Linked DNA regions of Homo sapiens: region 1 is linked to region 2. The links come from fine-mapping of genetic effects on gene expression. Tissue or cell type: whole blood. Region 2 holds a variant in brackets; the other region holds the start of a gene. All regions are shown on one strand. Distances are from middle to middle. Region 1 holds the start of BIN1 (bridging integrator 1). Region 2 overlaps BIN1 (bridging integrator 1).

Region 1 (15,540 bases), 29 kb before region 2:
TTGCCAAGTTGCCTGGTGAGGAAATCGGGGAGGAGAGTTGGGGAAGTCAGATATGTATGCCCATGTCTTTAGGAAGGATACATGCAAAGCCCCGTAGGGTGTTGGGGGGCTGTCTGGGCAAGGCTGAGGTGGCCATGTTGGCTCTGGAGTTGGGGAGCCCCTCTCCATCCAGGTATTTATTTGTGGTCACAGGGACTCTCATGGGATACAACAGCAGCTGGGCCCATGATCAGATTTCAGATATGTACAATGAACTGGGGTAGGAGATGGTGCAGGAGGAAAAAAGAAAAGCAGAAATTCATCATGACTGAAGGAGGACCCTGCTATAAGGGACAGTGGCTTTGGGGAGAGCTCCATTTGCTCCCACTCCCACCAGCGTTGGGTGTTGTCGCCTTTTAAATATAACCATTTTTGTGAGTGTATGGCGTTAACTCATTGTGGTTTCAATTTGTATTTCCCTAAAGACTCATGAAGACTCATTTTCTCCCATGCTTACTGCCATTTGTATATCTGCTGTAGTGAAGGGTCTTTTCAAATCATTTGCCTTAAAAAAAAAAGATTGCTTTCCTTATTGAGTTATGACAATTCTTAATTTGTTCTTGGATACAAGTCCTTCATTAGATATCTGTACCATGAAAAGTTTTATCTGAGTGGATTACCTCTTCATTTTCTTAGTGGTGTCTTTGGAAGAGCAGGCTTTAAAAATTTTGAAGTCTCGGCCGGGCGCGGTGGCTCACGCATGTAATCCCAGCACTTTGAGAGGGCGAGGCGGGCGGATCACGAGGTCAGGAGATCGAGACCATCCTGGCTAACACAGTGAAACCCCGTCTCTACTAAAAAACCCCATCTCTACTAAAAATACAAAAAATTAGCTGGGCGTGGTGGCGGGCGCCTGTAGTCCCAGCTACTCGGGAGGCTGAGGCAGGAAAATGGCGTGAACCTGGGAGGCGGAGCTTGCAGTGAGCCAAGATCGCGCCACTGCACTCCAGCCTGGGTGACAGAGCGAGACTCCGTCTCAAAAAAAAAAAAAAGAAAAAGAAAAAAAAATTTGAAGTCTCATTTATCAATTTTTAACGGTAGCTTAATATTCAAAATACAATTGACCTTTGGTCAGTGCGGCGATTGGGGGCACTGACCCCTCACACAGCCGAAAATCTGTGCATGACTTTTGGCCCCCACAAAACTTAACTATTAATAGCCTACTGTTCATCAGAAGCCTTGCTGATAACATAAACAGTTGATTAATACACATTCTGTATATGTATTATATACTGTATTCTTACACTAGAGTCAGCTAGAGGAAAGAGAATGTTATAAGAAAATTGTAAGGAACAGAACATATACTTACTATTCATTCAGTGGACATGGATCATCATAAAGGTCTTCACACTGAGTAGGCTGAGGAGGAAGAGGAAGAGGAAGAGGAGAGGTTTGTCTCGCTGTCTCAGGAGTGGTAGAGGCGGAAGGAAATTCACGTATATGTGGATCCATGCAGGTCAAACTCATGTTGTTCAAAGATCAACTGTATGGATAAACCAAATTTTAAAATAAGCAAATTTAACAATCCACGCCTGGACATTTAGATTGTGTCCAACTTTTCACTATTTCACTCATTGTGAGGACATGACTGCGCTAGTGACTATATTCTAAGGACAGAATCTCAGATGCATATGTTTGTCAGGTTTTGGTTAAACACCTGAAATTGCCCTCCTAAAGTGCACCTAGTAACTTGTAAATGAAGCCCAGTTTCAAGGAACCGGTCAGTCACCTTAGTAGCTTCATAGCTTGTGGGCGTGTTGATAAACAAACGAGACTTTAGAAATGCTTAAACACGGAGATGGGCCATCTTATCTCAGCACTCTGTTTAGAAAGCCATTTTTAAATAGATAATTAGGGTAAATTTCCAGTGAGTATTTCCAAAGTCTGGAATCTTCTACAGGAACTAAGCAGTGATTTATTAAAGAAGGAGTGCTGGGCAAAGGGCTGTTTGCTTTTCTGCACCTTTATTTGACCACCTGGAGAGCCAACAGAGGTCTGCCCCCTGTGTCTCACCAGCAATGCGGGCACATACTAGATTAACTAAGGGACTAACAGCCGCTATGTCATAATAGCAACTATGCTTTACCAAGCTCAATCAGCCCTACCAGGGACTGCCTGGTACCCCTAATCCTCATCGGCAGCCTTTCCTGGTGAGTATGAAGGCCCCACTTAAAGGAAGCAGGCAGTGACTGGCCCAGGGCCACAGTACTCATACCGATGGAGCCAGGGCCTTTGGCCTAAAGCCTGTGTGTCGTCGTCAGCATCTCAGTCTACTACTTTTTAGCCACAGCATAGACCACGCAGGGGTCAAGGTTTAAAGACATGCAGGACAAACACAAGCAAGCTGATTTTTTCCTTTTTTCTTTTTTTTTTTTCTGAGATGGAGTCTTGCTCTGTCTCCCAGGCTGGAATGTAGTGGTGCGATCTCAGCTCACTACAACCTCTGCCTTCGGGGTTTAAGCGATTCTCCTGCCTCAGCCACCCAAGTAGCTAGGATTACAGGTGCACACCACCACACCCAGCTAATTTTTGTATTTTTAGTAGAGACCAGGTTTCACCATGTTGGCCAGGCTGGTCTTGAACTCCTGATGTCAGGTGATCCACCCTCCTCAGCCTCCCAGAATGCTGGGGATTACAGGTGTAAGCCACCGTGCCTGGCTAAGCTGATCATCTTGAAAAAGGTTTTGCTTTTGGAGACTTCACTTGCTGGTGGCAAAAGGAAGTAACTCATTCCTGGAGGCCTTGCTAATATCCTGGAATTAGTTGGGGGATCCACTCACTGGCTCACTCCACAGGTCTCTCCTACACGGTCTGCTGAAATTGGATCTAAACATCTGGGCCCCTTAGAAGCCCAGGGACAGGGCCTTCCAGATGGTTCTGTGGGGAGTTGTCTTTTTGTCTCTGCAAGGATCGCCTCAAGGAAAGCTGGACAGGCTGGGGAGTCTGCACAAGCCTCAGTGTTTGGTGCCAACCCCAGCACAGTGTACAATGTCCTTAGCCTCTTTGCCAACCTTCATTCTGAACTCCTACCCCTTCAACCACCTACTCATACGTCCATTTGCCCAGGACAGTTCTGGCTTACACCTGCTACCTAGGTGTAATTATTTTTTTCCCCTTTCACTCAAAATTGTCCTAGTTTGGACACTCCATATTAATACTGATGGGTCAGGTGCAGGCACTCAGGAGAGACTAGCTTGATGATACCTATAGCATAACAAATGCATTAGAGTTGGCTCTCTGAAGGTCTTTATTAAGATAATGGTATATTGGCTGGGTGCGGCGGCTCACGCCTATAATCCCAGTACTCTGGGAGGCCAAGGCGAGCAGATCATCTGTGGTCGGGAGTTTGAGAACAACCTGGTCAACATGGTGAAACCCCATCTTTACTTAAAATACAAAAATTAGCCAGGCATGGCGGTGGGAGCCTGTAATCCCAGCTGCTTGGGAGGCTGAGGTGGGAGAATCAGTTGAACTTGGGAGGCAGAGGTTGCAGTGAGCTGGGTTAGCACCACTGCACTGCAGCCTGGGTGACAGAGTAAGACTCCATCTCAAAAAAACCAAACCAAACCAAACAACAACAACAAAAAGATAATGGTATATTAGTCATAACACTTCTTGCAAGTGGCCTCAAATTGGCTTTAGCAAGAAAAAAATGTATTGGTTCCTATGGCTGATAGTACGTGGTGGGAGTGGCCAGGATTTGGGCATCACTGGGACCAGGTTCTTAAGAAATGTCATTAATTCCATTTCTCTCTGTCCCTGTTTCTCCGTCTCTTCACTCGTCTTGACCTCAACTTCTAGGCAGGTCTTTCATGTAGTGGGCAAGCTGGCATCTGGTAGCTCTAGACTCACATCCTCCCAACTCTGCTAGTCTAGAAGAAAAGGGAACTTATGGGTCCTACAAGTATAGAGCATCCTAGGAAAGCTCTTCTTGGGCTTTTCCCAAGAGAGCCCAAACTTCATGTGCTCATCCTCAAGCCTGGGCTATGTGCACATCACAGTGTAAGAGACAGGGCTCATCAAAGCACACCCACCGAAGAAGGAGCTCCAAAGGAAAGCAGGACAATGGGCAGGGCACACCACAGTTATAGCATCTGCTACCCACTATAGATAGCCACCATCTACAGAGTCACTTCTGATATTCCAGGGGCTGTAAATATAGTGTTCACTATTTCCACAATAACCTAGAGGTTAATTTACCCCCACATTATAGATGAGGCTTGAACAGCTTGAATAACATATCCAAGGATGGAAAAGTGGTAAATGGAGTAGCTGATTACTTTTCTTTTCTTTTTTTCTTTTTTTTGCGAGACAGGGTCTGGCTCTGACACCCATGCTGGAGTGCAGTGGTGCAATCTTGGCTCACTGCAGCTTCTTGGGCTCAAGTAATCCTCACATCTCAGCCTCCCAAATAGCTGGGACTACAGGAGCACACCACCACGCTCAGCTAATTTTTTAAATTTTTTGGTAGAGACAGGATTTCACCATGTTGCCCAGACTGGTCTTGAACTCATGAGCTCAAGCAATCTGCCTGCCTCAGCCTCCCAAAATGCTGGGATTACAGGCATGAGCCACTGCACCGAGCCGAGGAGCTGATTTCTGAACCCAGGTCTATCTGCCCTTTCCAAAATATCATGGAACTTGAGAGTGGTGGCATTTTACATGTGAGAAAGATGGAGGACAATTTGAGTCAGGGAGCCCTTCCTGAATACCACATCACACTTAACGCTGCCCTGAAATAACTGGTGCTGCCTTAGAATCTTCTGCATCCTGAGCAAGACAGCCCCCTCCCTGTCTCTGTAAGAGGTGAAGTTGGCTGTCTCAGGAGGGAGGTACAAAGCTGGTCTGTTCCAGACACCACAGATGACCAAGTACTAACTGATCTCAGTACAGGACCCACCAGCTAAGTGCCTTCAGGTAAGCCTACTTTTTCCAAGTTTCCATCTATAAAAGGTGAGCAAAAGTTCTATCAAATGCAGGATTATTATGATAGCCAAAATAGTATAAACAAAAATTGCTTTGTAAGATAGAATGATGATGAGGATAGTAATATTGCTAGCTCGGAGCCTCTTAATCAATTCTTGAGTTGGAGAAGAAAATGGGGCAGGTGATCTTTTCTCTCCAAGGGATAGGAGGACTGTCCTTTGCTTGCCTCTGTTCTTCATGGTTTTAAAAAAATCATTTCCCAAATGATAATGAGATATCATTACATACCTATTAGAATGGCCAAAGTCCGGAACACCAAATGCTAGCAAGGATTTGGATGGAGCAACAGGTACTCTCATTCATTGCTGGTGAGAATGCAAAATGGTCCAGCCACTTTGAAAGAGAATTTGACAGTTCCTTACAGAACTAAACACACTGTTACCATACGATTCAGCCATCATGCTTCTTGATATTTACCCAAAGGAGTCAAACGCTTATGTCCACACAAAAACCTGCACATGGATGTTTATAGCAGCTTTATTCATAATGGCCTGAACTCAGAAGCAACCAAGATGTTCTGCAATAGGTGAGTGGGTAAATAAAGTGTGGTGCATCCAGAAAAGGGAACATTACTCAGTGCCAGAGGAAATGATCAAGCCATGAAGAGACATGGAGGAAACTTAGATGCATATTGCTAAGTGAAAGAAGCCAGTCTGAAAAGGCTACAAACTGTATGGTTCCAATAATACGGCATTTATTCTAGAAAAGGCTAAACTATGGAGACAGCAAAAAGATCAGTGGTTGCCAGGGGCTGGGGGGTGGAGGGAGGGATGAACAGGCAGAGCACAGAGGATTCTTAGGGCAGCGAAACTGTTCTATATGATACTCTAACAGTAGACACGTACCATTGTACACTTGCCCAGACCCATAGAACGTACAAGCCAAGAGTGAGTTCTCACATAAACTATGAACTATGGGGGATAATGATGCAACAACGGAGGTGCCTCAGTTGTAACAAATGTCCCACTGTGCTGGGGATGTTGATAGTGAGGGGGGTTGTGCATGTGTGGGGCAAAGGTTATGGGAAATCTCTGTACCTTCTGCTTACTTTTGCTCTGAACCTAAAAGTGTTCTAAAAGCCTGGCCAACACGGTGAAACCCCATCTCTACTAAAAATACAAAAATTAGCTGGGTGTGGTGTTGGGCGCCTGTAATCCCAGCTACTCGGGAGGCTGAGGCAGGAGAATCACTTGAACCCGAGAGGCAGAGGTTGCAGTGAGCTGAGATCGAGCCATTGCACTCCAGCCTGGGGTACAAGAGCGAGACTTCGTCTCAAAAAAAAAAAAATAAAAATAAAGTCTATTTAAAACAAACAAGCAAACAAACACAGAAACATGGCTTCTCCAGCCCTCACCGTTTGGATGCACGGCACACTCCCTCTGCCTGTGTGCTTTATCTTTCTATTCTGCCACACTGAGGTTTCCCAACTATTGCCCCAGGGGACATTGTCCTCATTTCAATTTGTATTTTTAATAGCACTTCTTTCTGATGACAAAAAGAGTACATGTACAAAGTTTGGAAAATAAAAAGAAAAAGAAGTAGGAGAAAAAAACCCCACCCCGAATTGCTCCACCTGGAGATATCAATCACGTTTTGGATCGCGGCTGGCACGATACTGTTTACATTAAACTGTATTATCCTGTTAACATCACATTTCCCTATCATGAGAAACTTCAAGAACATATTCTTTTGGTAAACATTTCATACATGGCCATACTATAGTTTAGTTAATCATTCGGCATTCAGGTGGTGATATTTAGATGTGTTCAGTTTTGCATTATTATAAATAATGTGATGAACATCTGTGTGGTGAAAGCTTTGCCAAATTTTTGAATTAAATCATAGACTTGGAATTATAGGGTGGAAGAATATGGATATTTTGGTTATTCTTATTCTATTACAAGATTGCTTTCTAGAAATTCTGTTATCTGTTTACACTCTCAGAAGTAGAATGTGAGTTTCTGTCTCTATGGTTTTATTAAGTAACATAATTTAAAAAATAATTTGTTGATTTGATGAAAATGAAAACAGAAATGGTATTTCATTGATTTAATGAACCTTTCTTTTTGTCTGGTAAGTCTGACTTTCGAAAACCTATTTATTAATTATTTGAATATCCAATTTTATAAATTGTCTACTATATATTGGGGTTTTAATGTTTTTCTTATGAATTTGTAAGAGTTCTATTTTATTGCCAAAAAAATTTTCCCTAGTTTCTTACAGTTTAATTTTTATGTCAAACTTATTTTCAAAATGGGAATAACTCTTTTCCTGGTAATTAAAATAACGGGCTGTCATGGTAAAAAAAAATAACATACTATAGAAAATTATACAGAAAAAAGTAAAAATCTACATTCTACCCCTTGAACTTGTACTAACATTTTTAGATCATTTCCTCCCAAACTTTTATCCTATGTTTTTATGGTATTTTCTGAAGTTTAAGAATTCTAATTTTTATGTACCTCAAAGCAAGCATTTTAAAATTTCAATATATTCTCCAGTGCTTTTGTGTTTAGAAATATCTTTTTAATCTAGCGATCTGATAAAAAATCACCTCTAAAAAAACAGAGCTGTGATTCTTTTTTTTTTTGAGATGGAGTTTTGCTCTCGTTGCCTAGGCTGGAGTGCAATGGTGCGATCTCGGCTCACCGCAACCTCTGCCTCCTAGGTTCAAGTGATTCTCCTGCCTCAGTCTTCCGAGTAGCTGGGCTTACAGGCATGCACCACAACGCCCGGCTAATTTTGTATTTTTAGTAGAGACAGGGTTTCTCCATGTTGGTTAGGCTGGTCTCGAACTCCCAACCTCAAGTGATCCGCCTGCCTTGGCCTCCCAAAGTGCTGGGATTATAGGCAAGGCATTATGTCATATTATAGAATATTAAGGAAATTAAGGGGGAAAGAAGTCAGCCTTAATGCCTGGACCCTAACACATCTGCTTCCTTTATGCATTGTTCTTTCAAGACATTGATCATGAGCTTTTAATTTATTTTAATTTATTTTTATATGGTTGCAAGTACAATTTCCTATCTTTTCCTTTCCTTCATAATTATGCCCTAAGCATTATTTTCTTGTTGCTACGTAGTCTCGGTAATGGTTGTTTTAAATGATTCCCAATGGCCCCTCCTGTGGCTGTGCTGTCACAGCTGACCCCATCCCTCTAATGAACACTTCCGTTGCTTCCAATTTTTCTGTCAAGCGATATTTAGAAACACCAGAGTCCAGTGAAGCAGAATCTCCCACTGTTCCCTGGGGGCTGACTGTAATGCAATTTGACTTTGCTCATTTCCTCCTTTCCTCAGAGGAGTGTTGGAAGAAATCACTTTTAGAGAATGGTTAGAAAAACGACCAACAGAAAATGAGGAGGAAGGAGATCATGAGCTGAAAGCATGTTGAGCTTTTAGGAGGAAGCTGCTTTAGAAGCCCAGACTGTGTAGGTTTTGCTTTTGTGACTCACAAATCGGGCATGAGTTTATAATAATTTTGACAGATGCTTTTCACTCATGCAGCGCTTGGTGCTTTTGAGGGCATTGGTGCAGGAAGGCTTGATGCAGAATCTCTGCTTATCATTTGCTGTCTGTGTGACCTACATCAGCGGCGCCTCAGTCTGTCTTCCTGCAGAATAAGAATACAGTCAGCCCTCTGCATCTGTGGGTTGGGCATCCATGGATCCAACCAACTGTGGACTGAAAATATTTGGAAAAATACAATAAAAAGTAAGACTACAACAATAAAATAATATAAATAAAAAACAAGGCCGGGCACGGTGGCTCACACCTATAATCCCAGCACTTTGGGAGGCCAAGGCGGGAGGATCACGAGGTCAGGAGATGGAGACCATCTTGGCCAACATGGTGAAACTCCGTCTCTACTAAAAATACAAAAATTAGCTGGGCATGGTGGCACGTGCCTGTAGTCCCAGCTGCTCGGGGGGCTGAGGCAGGAGAATCACTTGAACCCGGGAGGCAGAGGTTGCAGTGAGCCCAGATTGCGCCACTGCACCCCAGACTGGCGACAGAGTGAGACTCTGTCTAAAAATAAATAAATAAATAAATAAAAAATACAGCGTTAACAACTATTTACATAGTATTTAAATTGTATTAGCTATTACAAGAATCTAGAGATAATTTAAAGTATTTTGGAGGATTTGTGTACGCTATATGCAGATACTGTGTCAATTCATATGAGGGACTTGAGCATCCCTGGATTTTGGTATCCACGGATGTGCTGGAACCAGTCCCCTGGGGGATACCGAGGGACATCATGATAATAGGCCCGGAAGAGGACAGACGAACACACTGGGCCATGGGGCAGCACTGAGCGGTGGTGGAAGAACCCCGAGTAGCCGGAGAAAGAGCAGGAGGGCCTTCCAGGGAAGAGGGAATGGCCTGTGTGAACCCAGGCTGAACCTCTCATTCCTGGGACTCGATTTCTCCATTTGTACAAACTGCTTGGTTTGTGGTCTGCAAGAGCCCTTCCTGTTCCTCCAGGAAGCCTCTCAGGGACCTCTGTCCCTGGCCAGCTCTGCTCCTCTGACCGCTGCGGGTCCTGCAGGCCATAGCCCTGGCTCCTGTGTGTGCACCAGACACGTCTAGGCCTCTTCAGCGGGACCTATCTCTCTGCTCAACTCAATCAACAGTTCTTTAGAAATTTCCAGGGGCAGCAAAGTGCTGTAGCCCCTGACATGTTTTAGGGCTGAATGGGGGTGGGTATCAGCAGACTCAATACGTATTTATTAACTTAAAAGAAGTGTCATTGGTCTATTGGCAAAGCTGGTTAGCAATAACCTTATCTTCTCCAGGAATAATGATCACTAATCATTCCTTCCTGCTGGGGGTAGGAGACAACCCGGCGTATGGTGGTGGAGCACCTGGGAGACAGAGGCAGAGATCTCGTTCCTCGATCCCGGCGCGTTGGTTGTAAAGTAGGAACAGTAATAGCACCTACCTCTAGGGCCACGGAGACCGAATGAAATAATGCCTGTCAAGTCACTTAGTACACAGTAAGCACTCAGTAATGCTAGGTTGTTGTTATTATAATAAATTTTTAGCGAACGGGAAGACCAAGCACCGGTTGGTACTGGGCTAGGCGCCGTAGGCAAAGATGTGGAGATGTCCCGGAGGCGCCTAGGGTATCCGGGCGAAAACCCGAGGGCCGAAGGCTGGGAGGAGGCGGAGCGTCGGGCACCGGGCACCGGGCACCGGGCGGGAGGTGAGCCCCTGGAAAAGGAGGGGGCTCCGGGCGCGTTCTCCCAGCAGCCGCGGCTCCTCTGTTCAGGGCCGCGCCCCCTTCGCCGCACTTTCTCTTTGATTTCGAAAGCACTCCTCTCCTCCACCTAGTCTCCTTTCCTGGGTTGCAGGAGATTACTGCTTGCGGGGAAGACCAAGACGCCAGGCCGGCGGATTAGTCCCCGCCCCGGGGCGGTGCAGCTGGAGCGTCAGGGGAGTCCCGCTCGCCGCAGCCCCAGCGCCGCGCGCGCCCCTCCCTCCTCGCGGACCTGGCGGTGCCGGCGCCCGGAGTGGCCCTTTAAAAGGCAGCTTATTGTCCGGAGGGGGCGGGCGGGGGGCGCCGACCGCGGCCTGAGGCCCGGCCCCTCCCCTCTCCCTCCCTCTGTCCCCGCGTCGCTCGCTGGCTAGCTCGCTGGCTCGCTCGCCCGTCCGGCGCACGCTCCGCCTCCGTCAGTTGGCTCCGCTGTCGGGTGCGCGGCGTGGAGCGGCAGCCGGTCTGGACGCGCGGCCGGGGCTGGGGGCTGGGAGCGCGGCGCGCAAGATCTCCCCGCGCGAGAGCGGCCCCTGCCACCGGGCGAGGCCTGCGCCGCGATGGCAGAGATGGGCAGTAAAGGGGTGACGGCGGGAAAGATCGCCAGCAACGTGCAGAAGAAGCTCACCCGCGCGCAGGAGAAGGTGAGCGAGCCGGAGCCCCAGCAGCCGCGGAGTCCCAGCCGCCGCGGAGCCCCGGCCACCTGTCCCCCTATCCTCCGACCCCGGGGCCTGGTCCTTCGCCAGGATCTGGTGCTGTCACCTCTAGAGGAGCGCTTTCGAGGGGCTTCGAGGTCCCCAGGCTGCGTTCCCCGGCGCTCTGGGTGCCCTCTTAGGTTTGCGTCCTCTGTCTCCCCACACCCGGCCGGGGCAGGACAGGGCCCCGCTTTGCACCTTCGTGGCTCGGCTGCACAGCAGTGGCCGGCCCTGCTCCAGGCTCTTCTCAGGCGCGCGCTCCAGGCTACCCCGCTTTGGAGGCCAAGGGCCGGGAGGCTGGGAGGCCAGGTGGTGACCCTCAGCTCTCCAGGCCCATGCAGGCAACCTAGGCTGGGCCGGCGCTCGGGGCGAGAGGGAGTATGTCCCTCTGCCCCTGGGGACACTATTCCCCCGGACTCCCAAGGCTGCTTCTCGAACCGGCACCCACAGTTCCTTCCTTCCCACTGCTTCTCCACTTTCGTTCTCCGTGGGCCGAAGGAGGGATTGGGTTTCCTTTCCCGAGAGGTGCCTGCGGCCTGGAAGCTCCCGCCCAGCCCGGCCCCACCGGGAGCCCAGGGCTACGCACCCCGCAAGGAGGTGCCCTCGCCCCAGCAGGGGCTTAGCGTTTCCGGCGGCCGGGGAGCGGGTGGCGGCACTGGCTTTGGGAGCCCACGGCCGGGTGGGGAGCTGGCCTGGAGGAGGCGCGTGGAAGGCGCCACAGGAAACCCGACCCCTCCTCGCGGAGAGCTGGAATGGGGGATGGAGCCGGGGCCTCCCAGGGTGCCCAGAGCGTGCAGGAAATGCAGAGATTGAGGGGCGGGGGTCTGCACCCGGTCAGTTGTCTATCCCAAGCCACCTCTGGTTTATTGAATTGGATCACGCCAGCTGCTGACGCCACTTCCCCTGACGACTCCAACTCTGAAATCTGAGATTGCAGAATCTGTGTTTCTGCCAGGGTGGCCCCCCAGTGCCCCGCGGCCAGGCCTGCCCCCTCTCCCACCCGCTGCGCGGCCGCCGGGTGGAGGCGCAGGGACAGGCCGGCCTTCCCCTGCCAGGCCTGGTGGCTGTTTATAAACAATGACTTTTGCTTCTGAGACCCGCGGGCTCCCTAAGGATGCAACCACGTGATTGCTGGGGGATGGGGGAGAGGGGGGCGCCTAGAGCTTCCCCATACCTCCCTCAGAGTCCTACTGCTCATCCCTGTGTTTCCTGGCTAAGGAGGTGGGTGGGTGTGCATTGAAGGAAGGGCCCTCAGCCAAGTCCAGGTTTGCCCAGACCCAGCTCCCCAACCCCCCACCCCAGGGAAGGAGGAGGAGGAGGAGGAGGAGGAGGAGGAGGAGGGATTAAAGCCCCAGGAATAGCTGGCTGGGGGCTGGGAAGACTTCAGGTTGTGGGGTGGGGGGGTGGCAGCACAGATGCAGCCACCCCTGCTCCGGGCTGCCATGACTGGGTAATCCATCTGTGTGCCTGGAGCAGGCAGCCCTGGGCCAGAGCCTGCTTCCTTCCCTAAAGGGCCAGGGAGATGAATGGGAAGGGAGGTTAGCTGAGCTGTGTTCCCTGCCCCCTTCCCACTGGTGTCCCACCCCTTCCTGGCTCCCCAAGGCTCTTGGTGTGTCTCCTTTGCCCTGGTTGTCTTTTCTCTGCAGCAGCATCTTTGATGTCATTCTCGGGGCAGTAGGCAAGGGCTGTGTCCCCTCCAAGGAGGTGGTGATGTATCACTGAGCTCCTGAGACACCATCCCTCTCTCTTGAGCCCCTGTTCTGTGGCCACGGGCAGTTGGCTGACAGTTGGTCAGCTAGGCATGCTGGTCTTGGCCAACAGCTGACCTTGCCCATGCCGGGCTTCCTGGGACTGGAGTTGTTTAGTGTTCCAGCTGCTCTCTGCCTGCCGGAGACTAGTTAGGGACCCTCCCCCCATCAGAAACCAAGGCAGCATGACCATCATGACAGGCATCCAGGCCAGGTCTCTGAAAGTAGCCTTCCCCTCCCTTTGGGTTGCAGGCCCTGCTCGCAGGAAGCCCCATGCCTCAACCCACAGCAGCCTCTGCTGTGTGCCTTCCTGTAGAGTCTGTGCCATCATTGGAGGGTCATCCTCAGTGTCTTCTGTTGGTGATCAGTGCCGCCTCTAACTCCCACTGTCAATGAAACTGGAATCCTAGTCTCTTACAGGCAGCCCCACCACTATACCTACCTTGCCTTGGTGAAATCAGTGGGTAATAGGGCAATTCCAGTTTCCCTGTGGCTACAGGAAGGCGTTTCCTGAGCAAGGATGGCAGGAGCTGTGCTGGGAGGCTGGGAGAGTCCTGGCGTCCTGGCGTAGGAAGAAGGGCCCGTATCTTGCATCCACCCTTCACCCCCGGCCTTCCCACATCCACTTCCAGCCCAAACAAACATCCAGACTGTGAGGGTGACAGTGTGGTCAAGGGCAGCCTGCACTCTTGTAGGGTCCCCAAGCCAGCTCTTTTTTGACTGTTGTTACCTGTTGACCCTTCTGCCTCCACCACTGGTCTGGCTGATCCCTGAGGGCACGGCAGGGCACATCCAGGTGTGTGCATTGAGGATGTTACCTGGCCCCAGTCGGTGCTTAGTGAATGTTTTTGAACAAGGGATTTGGGCCTGACGCAGGCTGATGGTGGATTGATTTGTGTTGTTTGTTCTCTGCCATCACTCATTCATCAAATCCTGCCTGGACACAGGCCCAGTGCCTCCTGGGCTGAGTCCCCGATGCTGTCTCAGGCAGGGTGCATGTGTCTGGCCTGTCTGGAGCTTTTTCTTGAAGGTCCCATGGCCTGTGGCCTTGGTGTGAGGAGGGTATGAGAATAAATTGGAAGGGTTGCCAGGGCCTCCAGCATGGCACCATTGCTCCTGGCCCCCTGGCCACTGCCCCCGGAATGCGTGGGGTGCACTGTGTGTGCTGGGAGCTTGAGCCTGTGGGCGCCGTGAGGTCATCTTCCCATTGCGTTTGGCTTGTCGAACCCTCTATAAATGATTGTGTCCATTTTTGGGCCTCAGAAGAGTGGCTAGGCAAAGCCAGTGTAGGGTGGAGCCTGGGTCAGATGACGGGGAGGATTAGAGGTTGGCAGGCTGGGCCCCTCGCGGGATGGGGCGCCTGGGGAGAAGGACAGCTGAGGGGGTGGGGATCTGGCCTGCTGGCCCCTGAAGGCCCACGGCTTGGGAGTCCTCATGGAGCCGGCCTGACGGAGCTGGGCCTTTCTCTGACCACGCTGGGCTGACAGTGAGCACAGGAGGAAGGCTCTGGCAGGGTGGGAGTGTGCATGCTGTCCCTCCCTCCCGGCAGGTCCTGAGCATGCTGGAGGGGTGCAGGCTGGATAGTGGGGAGGGCCAGCTGGGCAGAGGGAGGGCCCAGGGTTGTCAGTGCCCAGCACAGCGCTGACATGCCGAGAAGAGGCTCGCTAAAGGAAGGTGCAGTGGTGGCGATTCCTAGAGCCTTGATGCATGGCCATGAATTGCACTATGCTCAGCTGCGTGGTCAAGGTCTCCTCACGCAGTAGCCACCTTAGCCTCCTCCGGAGGAGCCAGGCCTGTACACCAAGCGTTATATTTGCAGCAACCTCAGAAGCAGCAATGCTACACCTGAGAGTGGGTGCATGGTCCCTGTAATAGAAAGGACAATGGGGGCATAGGCAGGCCCAGCCACCTGCCCAAGTCACCCAGGCCCTCAGTGATGGCACTGGGAGCCCACCCAGAGGCCCTGGTCTCCTCACCTTGGCCACTGACTTTGCAGGGGTCCCGCCCCCTTCCCAGGCCCTAGCACAAAGATGCCCCCCTCTACCCACATTCCCATCTCTGTCCATCTTGGGGCCCATCTCTGTCCTTCTGTCCTTGAATGTCTGAGGTTCTTCCCTGCCGGCTACTGTCTTGTCTTTTTCTCTGTCTCTGTCTGTACCTCCCTGCTCTGGGCCTCTTCCCTCTGAACCTGTTCAGGCTCTTCCTGTATCTCTCCAGTCTCAGCTTCCCCTGGACCCGAGTTACTTATGTAGATGGTTCATCTCACCCTGCAGGGAAGGCTTCTGAGCTGGGCATCTTCTGTGGGTGGGCCCAGGTGTGTGTGGGTTCTTGGGTGTTCGGTAAAGGCGTGTGGGCATGGGAGGTTGGAAGCATGGCTTCCAGACTTCCCCAATCCCCCAGGGGCCCTGGATGGCCTGAGTACAGCCTTCTGGCTCATGCAGGGACCAAGCCAGGCACAGGCTACTTGTCCAGGCACAGCCTACTTGGGAGGCTGCATGGGGCATGGGGAAGGAGAAGGCATTCCAGGAGGTGCAGGCATGGTCCAAGGTGTGGAGAGAGGTGTGAGGACATTGAGGATGCCAGCTCTCTGAAGAGAAGGGGTGCCTGGGTGGTAGATTCCCTCCATATTTCATGAAGTTGTGAAGGCCAGGAAGATCTATGGATCGCAAGGATTCTTGGAGAAGCTGAGGCTTGAACTCTCTGCGCCCTCTTCAAGATCACCACATCGGGGCTCCCTTCTCACTGGCATCTGACCAGGTCCTTGTCCCTGGACTCAGCGTCCAGCCCAGCTGGTCCCTTACAAGCTGTGTGACTGT
Region 2 (8,000 bases):
GAGCGTGTGTGGGCGTCATCTCACACTGGAGGTGCTTGCTGCATGTACATGGCCGAGCTTGTGCTGCTGTGTGGGGCCCTGAGGGCTGGGGAGCGTTCTTGCCTCCAGATGGAATGCACTTATCTTTAAAGTCATTGTGCCTTTGAGAAGTTGGAAGGCATAGCCTGAAGGGTGGCTAGCCGCTAAGAAGTGTGCTGTGTGTTCTGGGCTTGCTTCCTGGGACTCACTTCCCGGTGCCCCTGGGCTCTGCTCTCCAGCAGGAACCTGGGCCACTTCTCCCCTTTGCAGCCACAGCTGGGGCTGCTGCAAGGGGCCCAGCTGCCCGTAGCTTTCCCAAGGAGTCTGGGACCCTCATTCTAGCCCCTCTGTCCTTGGCTGCAGGTCTGGGTGCCCTCCCCTCCCAACCTGAGGGTGAAGCAGCAGCTCTGGGGTGGGGCGGGGCGGGGGATGGAGGGAGAACAAGGCCTCAATCGTCACCAGGAGACTGCTAGCTTCTGGGTTAAGCACTGCTGCTCTGAAGACGCCTCTGTACGTGTGACTTCACTGGGTTCTGAGGAGGAAGAGAGTTTCCCTGGGCTGGATGAGACCAGGAAGCTGCCCCTTGTGCAGTCACCAGCCTGGGGCAGGTGCCACAGCCCACAGTCAGTGTGGCCTCCTAAGGAACACTGCAATGGGCTCAGAGGGCAGCTGCTAGGCCATGGGTCTGTCTCCTTTCTCACTTCTTGAAGCAGACAGACCTGAGTGATGATGCTTGTTCACCACCACCACAAAGCCACAGAATCTGAGCTCGGTCGCTTCTTCGCTGCAGAGCCAAATCCTTCAGTGCCGCAGCCTTTCCTTTCTTATCTCTAAAGCAGGGGTAATAATCTGCGGCTCTGAGCATGAGGGAACGCTGAAATGCCTAAGAGCAATGAGCATGCCTCTCCACCGAAGGAAATCAGGGTTCCTTGGAGAAATGGCTGATGCCAGGGCTGGGGCAGGGACAGTGCAGGCTGAGCCTGGAGAATCTGCTAGTGCCAGAAAGTAAGGAAGCGCCTGGAGATGAATGAGGACGTGTCCGAAACCTCCCACTGGTCGCACTTGGGATGTTTGAGCATCAAAATGAATCACGAACGCAAAACGAAGGACTCACGATATCCTCACCACCCTCCTCGCAAAGGCAAGACCAGGGGAGGCTCGTGTTTGTGGAATGCCGGGTCACGTGGAGGAGATTGGGTAACAGCGGGTTCCAGCCAAGATGCTATTGCAGTGCTTCTCAGACTTCACTGCGCATACGGTGCGCCAGGGGGACTTGTTAAAGGGAACACTCTGGTTCAGCAGGTCTGCAGTTTTTTTTCTCCTCCAGGCTCTTGGAAGACTGTCATGCAGCTGCCCACAGACCTCACACTGAATAGCAAAGAATGATGGATAGTAAAGGCACTGTGCAAAAATTTCAACAACTTTTTGCCTTGCCACAGTGACCGTGATTGTCCTGCAGATGACTAAGAGAAAAGTGACCTTCCTTTCCAAGAGATCTGGCAAACACGACTCAGACCCGGCGGTCAAGCCTAACACAGCTGTGGTGCGGTGGGAAGGCTCAGCCTCCCTCTGCAGGACTCTTGCCAAAGCAGCCTTTAACCTGAACTTCCTCACAAGGAAACAATCAGATGGATCCAGAGTGTGGGGCATTCTCCAAGTGATTGGTTTGCACTCTTAAAAAGATACCAGTATCACGAAAGAAAAAAAATGGATAACATTGATAAATAGGCATACGGGGAATATTCTGGACTAAAGGAACAAGAGACCCGACAATCAGAAGCAATATGTGAACCACAGTTGGATCCTAGACCCAGACATAAAGGGCATTTGGGGGGCACCCAAGGATATTTGAATGCGGACCGTGTGGTAGATGGTATTTTAAAATACATTTTGGATGTATTGGGGGTGCTTATGGTATCATGGGCATTTTGGAGCATGTTCTTGTTCTTAGGAAATCTGTTGGAGTATTTAGGGGTGAAGTATTGTGGAGCGAAGGTCATCCCAGTGACCCTTCTGCTGCTTACCTTCTGTTGGCTGGGCAAACATACAAATGCAGGAACGGTTTATATATAGAGAAAAGTGACTGGGCACGGTGGCTTGTACCTGCAATCCCAGCACCTTGAGGGTGCTGAGGTGGGAGGATCACTTGAGGCTAGGAGTTCCAGACAAAACTGGGCAACATAGCGAGGCCCTGTCTCTACAAAAAGTAAAAATACTAGCTAGGTGCAGTGGCCTGTAGTCCCAGCTACTCGGGACGCTGAGGTGGGCGGATCGTTTAAGCTCAGAAAGTCTAGGCTACTGTGAGCCATGATTGCGCCATGTACTCTAGCTTGGACGACATAGCAAGAAAAGAGAAAAGCAAAAAAAAAGAAAAAAAAAAAAAGAAAAAAGCAAATGAGTGTGGCCAAGTGGTAACAGTTGATTGGTGAATCTGGGTGAAGGGTAGATGATAGTCCCTGTAGTATCCTTTCCACTTTCTTTGAGGTTTATACTTTGAAAATAAGGAGGTGAGAGGGCCACATGAAATGTGGAGGTGAGTGGTGGGCTTAGAACCTCTTTTCCTCCCTCTGCTCTCTCGTCAGGGCTGCTGTGGCCTCCTGCATGGCACCTAGATTGTTGGAGGCCACCGAGACTCTCCACCCAGAGGTGGGGAGCAGGCTTAGGTGGCTCCACTGTCGGAGTGGGGATGGGGAGGTGTGAGCAGCAGCCGGGAGAGGGGTCCTGTGTGTCTGGTTGCAGGGACAGCTCGCATTTGAGAGATGGGCTTGGAGGAGGGGTTGTGTGCTGGGGAACTAGGTGACTATGGGATCTGCGGGACTGTCCTCAGACTGGCTCCCTCTGCCCCTGGGGGTTTAAGACTCCCATTGTACCCCTTTCACCACTGCCACCCCAGCCTGATGTGTCAGACAGCAGGCAGCATCTTGGGGCAGGAGAGGGGAGGCAGAGGGCCTTGTACCCCTTCCCCTGCCTGGGCGCCCACCATGGCCTGCCCACGCCAACCCTGGTCTCGGTGCAGACTTGTCCTGCGATGTCCCTGGTATCCCCAGCTGAGTGCCTGCAAGGCCTCAGAGCTTGTGACCACGGAGGCCTTCAGCTGGCCATCCTGCCCTCTGTCTCCCCTGCAGGGGCCCCTGGAGCATGAGGGCGGAAAGATCCCCGAGGCCAGCCCTGTGTCATCATCCACAGCTCCCCAGCTTGGCTGACCCGAGCTGTGTGTGGGAGACGACGGAGGAGGAGGGGCAAGGAAAGATTGACAGAGGGACAGCCCCCGGGAGTCAGTGAGCGAGCCTGGACCCAGAGGTGGGGGGCGGGGGTGGGGAGAAGGCTCGCCTTTGTCCTGTTCTAGGGGCCCTCCTCCCTTTCGCCTCTTGGGGTGTCTCCCTCGGGACTGGGCCCAGAGAAAGCCTGGCCGGGTGTCTGACAGTGGCCTTCCCCCTGCCCGCCTGCCTGTCCTCTGTCTGTGTCTGCCTGCCTGGGGAGCCTCGGTGTGAGAACGCCGGGGCACGAGGGTGTGCATCCTGCCTCCGTGGCCCCCGACCGCAGGCTCTGCTGGGAGGAAGGGGCGAGACAGGGCTCACTTCTCAGCCCGCCCTTCCTGTGCAGGCAGGTGGGGAGGAGATGATGCGGAAGGTGAGGGCCTTATGCGTTTTCTGGGGTCTCAGCAGCTGGGTGGTGGGTGCCTGGGAGGGAGATTTGCTGGATGAGGTCCCCCTTCCATGTGTGTGTGGGGGTGGGGTGTTGGGAACTCTGCTGCCACTGCAGGGACGAGGGGTGCCGCTGGCTGGTGGAGGAGCCCCTAGCTTTCTGCCTGGCCCTGGCCAGGACCAGAGTGACTGGGAACGCGGCCCTCACCCCTCCTTCCTTAGGCTTCCCTCCTGGGCCCCTGGGCTGGTCCTTCTGATGGCCTTGGGAAGTGCTTATCCCTGCCCTGGGCCATGCCATTCAGACTGTGGGTGTGTGTCCCGCAAGTGCAGCAGGCCCACTGGTCTCTGGGGCCGAGGGAGGGATCAGAGACCCCAGGAGGGGCTGCTGGGGCCCAGCCGGGTGAGCCCGAAGACCCGGCCCTCCTCACTGTGGCGGCTAGAGCTCCTGGCCCCTCCTGACTGGACGGTGTCAGGCTGTGTCCTGATTTGTTTGTGCTCACCTGCCATCTGTCACATAAGGACACTTCCCTTCTGAGGAGGCGGCCCTGGTGACTTGAAGTGCGTGCATGGTGGGTGGGTGCTGTACGTGGTGAGCTGCTCCTGGCTCAAACAAGACAGGCCTGGGCACCCTTCCTCCTTCTGGGTTCGGTGGCCGTGCACTGCCTGTGCCCCATGACTCACGCTGTGGGTCAGGGCCTTGCCTGCCATGCGGGGGCTGTTGGAGGGTGGCAGGACTCCCTGTACCCACAGGGAGCGGCTGACGCCAGGGCCTTCTGCCCTCTCACTGGGCCATGACAAAGGCCTTGGCGGAGGGCTGGGGAGGGGCACCCACCCACGGGATGCTCCCACTGAGCCCCTGTGGACCCGGGTGCCGGAGGCATGGCGTCAACTCAGTGAACCACCCAGCCTTTCTAGGGAGGAGCCTTGGGAGGGTTTCCTTCCACAGCCGAGGCCCAGCGAGGCTGAACCCTGTGGATGATTGCAGGAGGAGGTTCTGGAGCTGGCCACGGGTTCACACTTTGTCATTCCTGCCACCTGCCCCCCCTCCCTGCCCTGCCCTGGGGTGTCCCCTCCAAGGCACTTCAGCTCCACTCACATCTGGCCTTGGGTTGAGGACATGGTGAGAGGAAGCTCTGATAGGAGGTGATTGGGTG[TGG/G]CACTGATAAAGCTCCTGGGACTGTTGGCTCTGTGGCTGCCTCTGCCGCCTGGGCCTCTGTGTGTCTCGTCCGCCGCCAAGTTTTCAAAGGCTCCCCTTTGTTTATCACAGAGTGAGTGTGCGTGATAAGTGTGTGATGAGTGTAGGTGGAACTGATTGTCTAAGGGGCCCTCACCCAGTAACCCTGGACAGAGTGCAAATCCTGGCCTGTGCCGCCAGACCCTCCTCCTCACCCAACTCCTGCTCATCCTTCAAAACCCAGCACAACTGTCCTGCCCAGCTTTCCTTAGTCGCTGCTGGGCCAGCCCCTCCTGGACACCTGGAGTCCCCTGTGTCCCTCAGTGGTCTGCCTGTGAGCTCGGCACAGGGGAGGCCCCACTAACCAAGTGTGGAACGGATGGGGTGGGAGATCTGTGTCCCAGGGCTCACGGCCTTGTCCCAGCTCCTGTTCTGGGGCAGGGGGTGCCCAGATTGTTTTTCCCTGTGGTAGCCACACCAGGAGCTCCTTGAGGATGGGGACCCCAGGCCACTTGCCTGCGTTCCCTCATGGATGAAATGGGGGTAGGTGCAGTGAGGATGGCATGTGGCCAAGGCCAGCCTCGCCCATGGGTCTTCCCTGGGCCTCGGCCATGCTGTGGCCTTGTTATTCCTCCCATTTCCAAGGCGGGGGCACTGGAGCACTGAGAGCTTCAGCAGCCTGAGGTCTCGCAGAGTGGGGAGACTGGCTCAGCCTCAGGCTTGCTGTCACCCCTCAGGGCTGAGGGCTTTCTGTACATTACCCTTCCATTTTGTCTGGGAGGAGCCTGAGGCTGAGAGGTGGGTTGTTTTGTTTAGGGTCATGTCTCTGCCCTCAAAGCCCACAGCTCAGATGAGCAGCAGCCGCTGAGAATATCTTGTGTGTCTGTCCTGTGCTTAGCCCTGTGTGGGTGTTGGGGACACAGAGATGACTGGAACAGTGTCCCTGACCTCAAGCTGTTCCTTCAGGGTGAGGGTGTGAGGCACACAGGCACATCACATAGCAGTGAGGAAAGCTCTAAGTGGTACAGAGTGTTTTGAGGAAAGGAGAGATCAGGGACAGTTCACAGTGATGTCACCTGAGTGAGGTTTTGAAGGATGCATAGGAGTTTGCCATGTGCAGGTAGAGTGTGCGCGTCTGTGACTTCTGTCTCACATCTTGGGATGCCGTCAGCCTGGACCCGGTGTGAGGGCTGGCGGTGTCAGTCAGGCCCATCCCCCACCTGTGTGAAGGCTGCTCTGAAGGCCTTTTAGGGATTTGCCATTTCTTGAATATCATGGGCCAGGTACTGCTCTGCACTTTATAGACATGATCTTTGTAATCCTTGAGGAGGGTGCCAGTGTTCACTTCATTTTGTAGATTGAGGCTCAGAGAGTAGCTGTCCCTTTTCCCAAGGGTCTTCTCACTGCTGCGTGGAGTCTCACCTGGGCTGGTGTCTCGTTCTCAAGGCTGGAAGATCTCCCCAGTTCTCCAGCTGTCTGTGCAGAGCACACAGCAGTGTTTGGGAACTGGGTCGAGTGTGTGTCTGTCTCTGTACACCTCAGGAGCCCTGGTGGCCAGTGTGGGTGGGGAAGACTGGGGACCTTTTGCTGGCTGAGTGTGTCTGTCTTCCTGGGGAGAGGGAGGGCAGGGCGTGGAAGGGGCATCCTTCCTGGTGCTCTTGCCTTGGGAGCTGGGCAGTCCCTGCCCTGTTTCTGAGAGCTTCTGGCTCTCTCTGGTGGCTCTGGTAGACTTCTGGGAGTTCTTTTCTATGTGGTGGTCTATTCCTCTCTTTGGAGGGGGTGGGGCTGTGGGGTGGGTGCCTGAGCAGAGGGGCTGAGTCACCTACCCAAGCTCTTTGCAGAGCCGGGTGAGGAACCTCCCCAGCTCAGCCCACTTTCTGGGGGGTCCCTTCTGGATGTGGCTGCCAGGGAGGGGCAGCAGTGGGGAGCCTGCAAGTTGTGCAGTGTACATTTTCTTGCTCATGTGGGGGTTTTGTTTTGGTTTTTCTCTCATCCCTGTGTCAGCCCTTGGCATCCAGCTGCAGTTGCCCAAGGGGCTGTGTCCCGACCGCTGTAGCACAACATCATCGGTGGCTGCCTCCCGGTGCCCACCTGCCCCCTGCTGCCACTCTCACTTTCCCACTCCATCCTCTGTGACCTCTAGTCACCTTGAGCAATTCAAAACTCCCCAGTAAGATGCTCCATCTTTCTGGTCTCCTTACCTTTGTTGCAACCTCTCCCCTCTGTCTGAGCTGCCACCCACTCCAGGAAGTCTCACTGACTGCCCAGGCTAGAAGAGATCTCTACCCCCAGGGTCCCACAGCCTTAAGTGTTCCCCCATGTCAGGACAGAGACCCACATCTGATTCCTCTCTGCTGTACCGGCCAAGGTGCCCAAGGCCAGGCACAGAGCAAGTGCTTGGTGAGAGATGGCCAAGAGCAGCTGGCCTTGCCAAGGCTTCTGGGCCTGGCTGGGGGGGGAAGTGCAGCAGGGCAGCACAGGACCTGCAAGGGCCGGCAGGGTGGGAAGGGTCCTGGCTGTGTCCTGGTACCAGGCATCCGTTGGTCCAGGACCGTGGCCTGGGCCCTGGGCCCCAAAGCTGATGTTCCTGGCAGCATGGGCTGGCTCCGGGTCTTGGAAGGGAGGGATGTCTGCAGACCTACTGGCCTCAGCAGATGCTGGGCTGGCCCTTTGCTCCTGGGGCTCCCCACCGCTCCTGGGCCCACCTTTTTCTCCCTTTGCTTTCCACTCCCATCCCCTACCCCCGTTTCCTTCTCATTCTTGTGAGGTCTTGCCCACTGCCTGGGAGAGGCCTCTGCTGAGACATCAGTGTTGGCCTTTCTGCCGCCCTGATGGAGGTGCCTCTTTGGCTGCAGACGGGTGTGTCCCGCCGCCACCCTGGTCTTCCCCTCTGCTCTCCTGCAAACCCATCTGGCACTCCTCATCCCTTTTCTGTGCCCCAGCTCTTTGTCTTTTTCTTCTCCTGCTCTTTCCTACCGTGCCCCACCACCGCTCCTTGCCTCTGTATTTTGTCTCCCTGCTCCCACCTCTCTCTCCGTCATGTGGAGCTCTGGGATTGGAGGAGCAGGGCCCAGAGAGGGAAGTCTGGGAGAGCGTGATGGTCAGCATATGTTCTCAGGGTCCTGGCCAGCGCCCTCCTTTCCTAGAGCTTTCCCCTCTCCTGG

The links.
Region 1: it holds the start of BIN1, and the variant in region 2 is fine-mapped to the expression of BIN1 in whole blood (TOPMed, PIP above 0.99).

The regions. Positions count from the first base shown.
Region 1 is chr2:127,102,245-127,117,784 of GRCh38, reverse strand. BIN1 (bridging integrator 1) reads left to right here and starts at 10,631. Exons shown (of 19, transcript NM_139343.3): 1 at 10,631-10,925. The coding sequence starts at 10,842. LOC105373605 (a long non-coding RNA gene) reads right to left here and starts at 10,640. Exons shown (of 4, transcript XR_923311.4): 1 at 9,970-10,640; 2 at 1,349-1,522. RefSeq lists silencers at 10,504-10,563, 10,398-10,692, 10,574-10,783 and an enhancer at 13,503-14,055.
Region 2 is chr2:127,077,480-127,085,479 of GRCh38, reverse strand. The region is part of intron 1 of BIN1 (bridging integrator 1); the gene reads left to right. Among named protein-coding and RNA genes, the nearest start is that of BIN1, 26 kb to the left of the region's middle. RefSeq lists enhancers at 314-453, 2,926-3,125, 3,166-3,225, 3,796-3,925, 4,246-4,475. The variant TGG/G (reference allele first, on the strand shown) is at 4,817.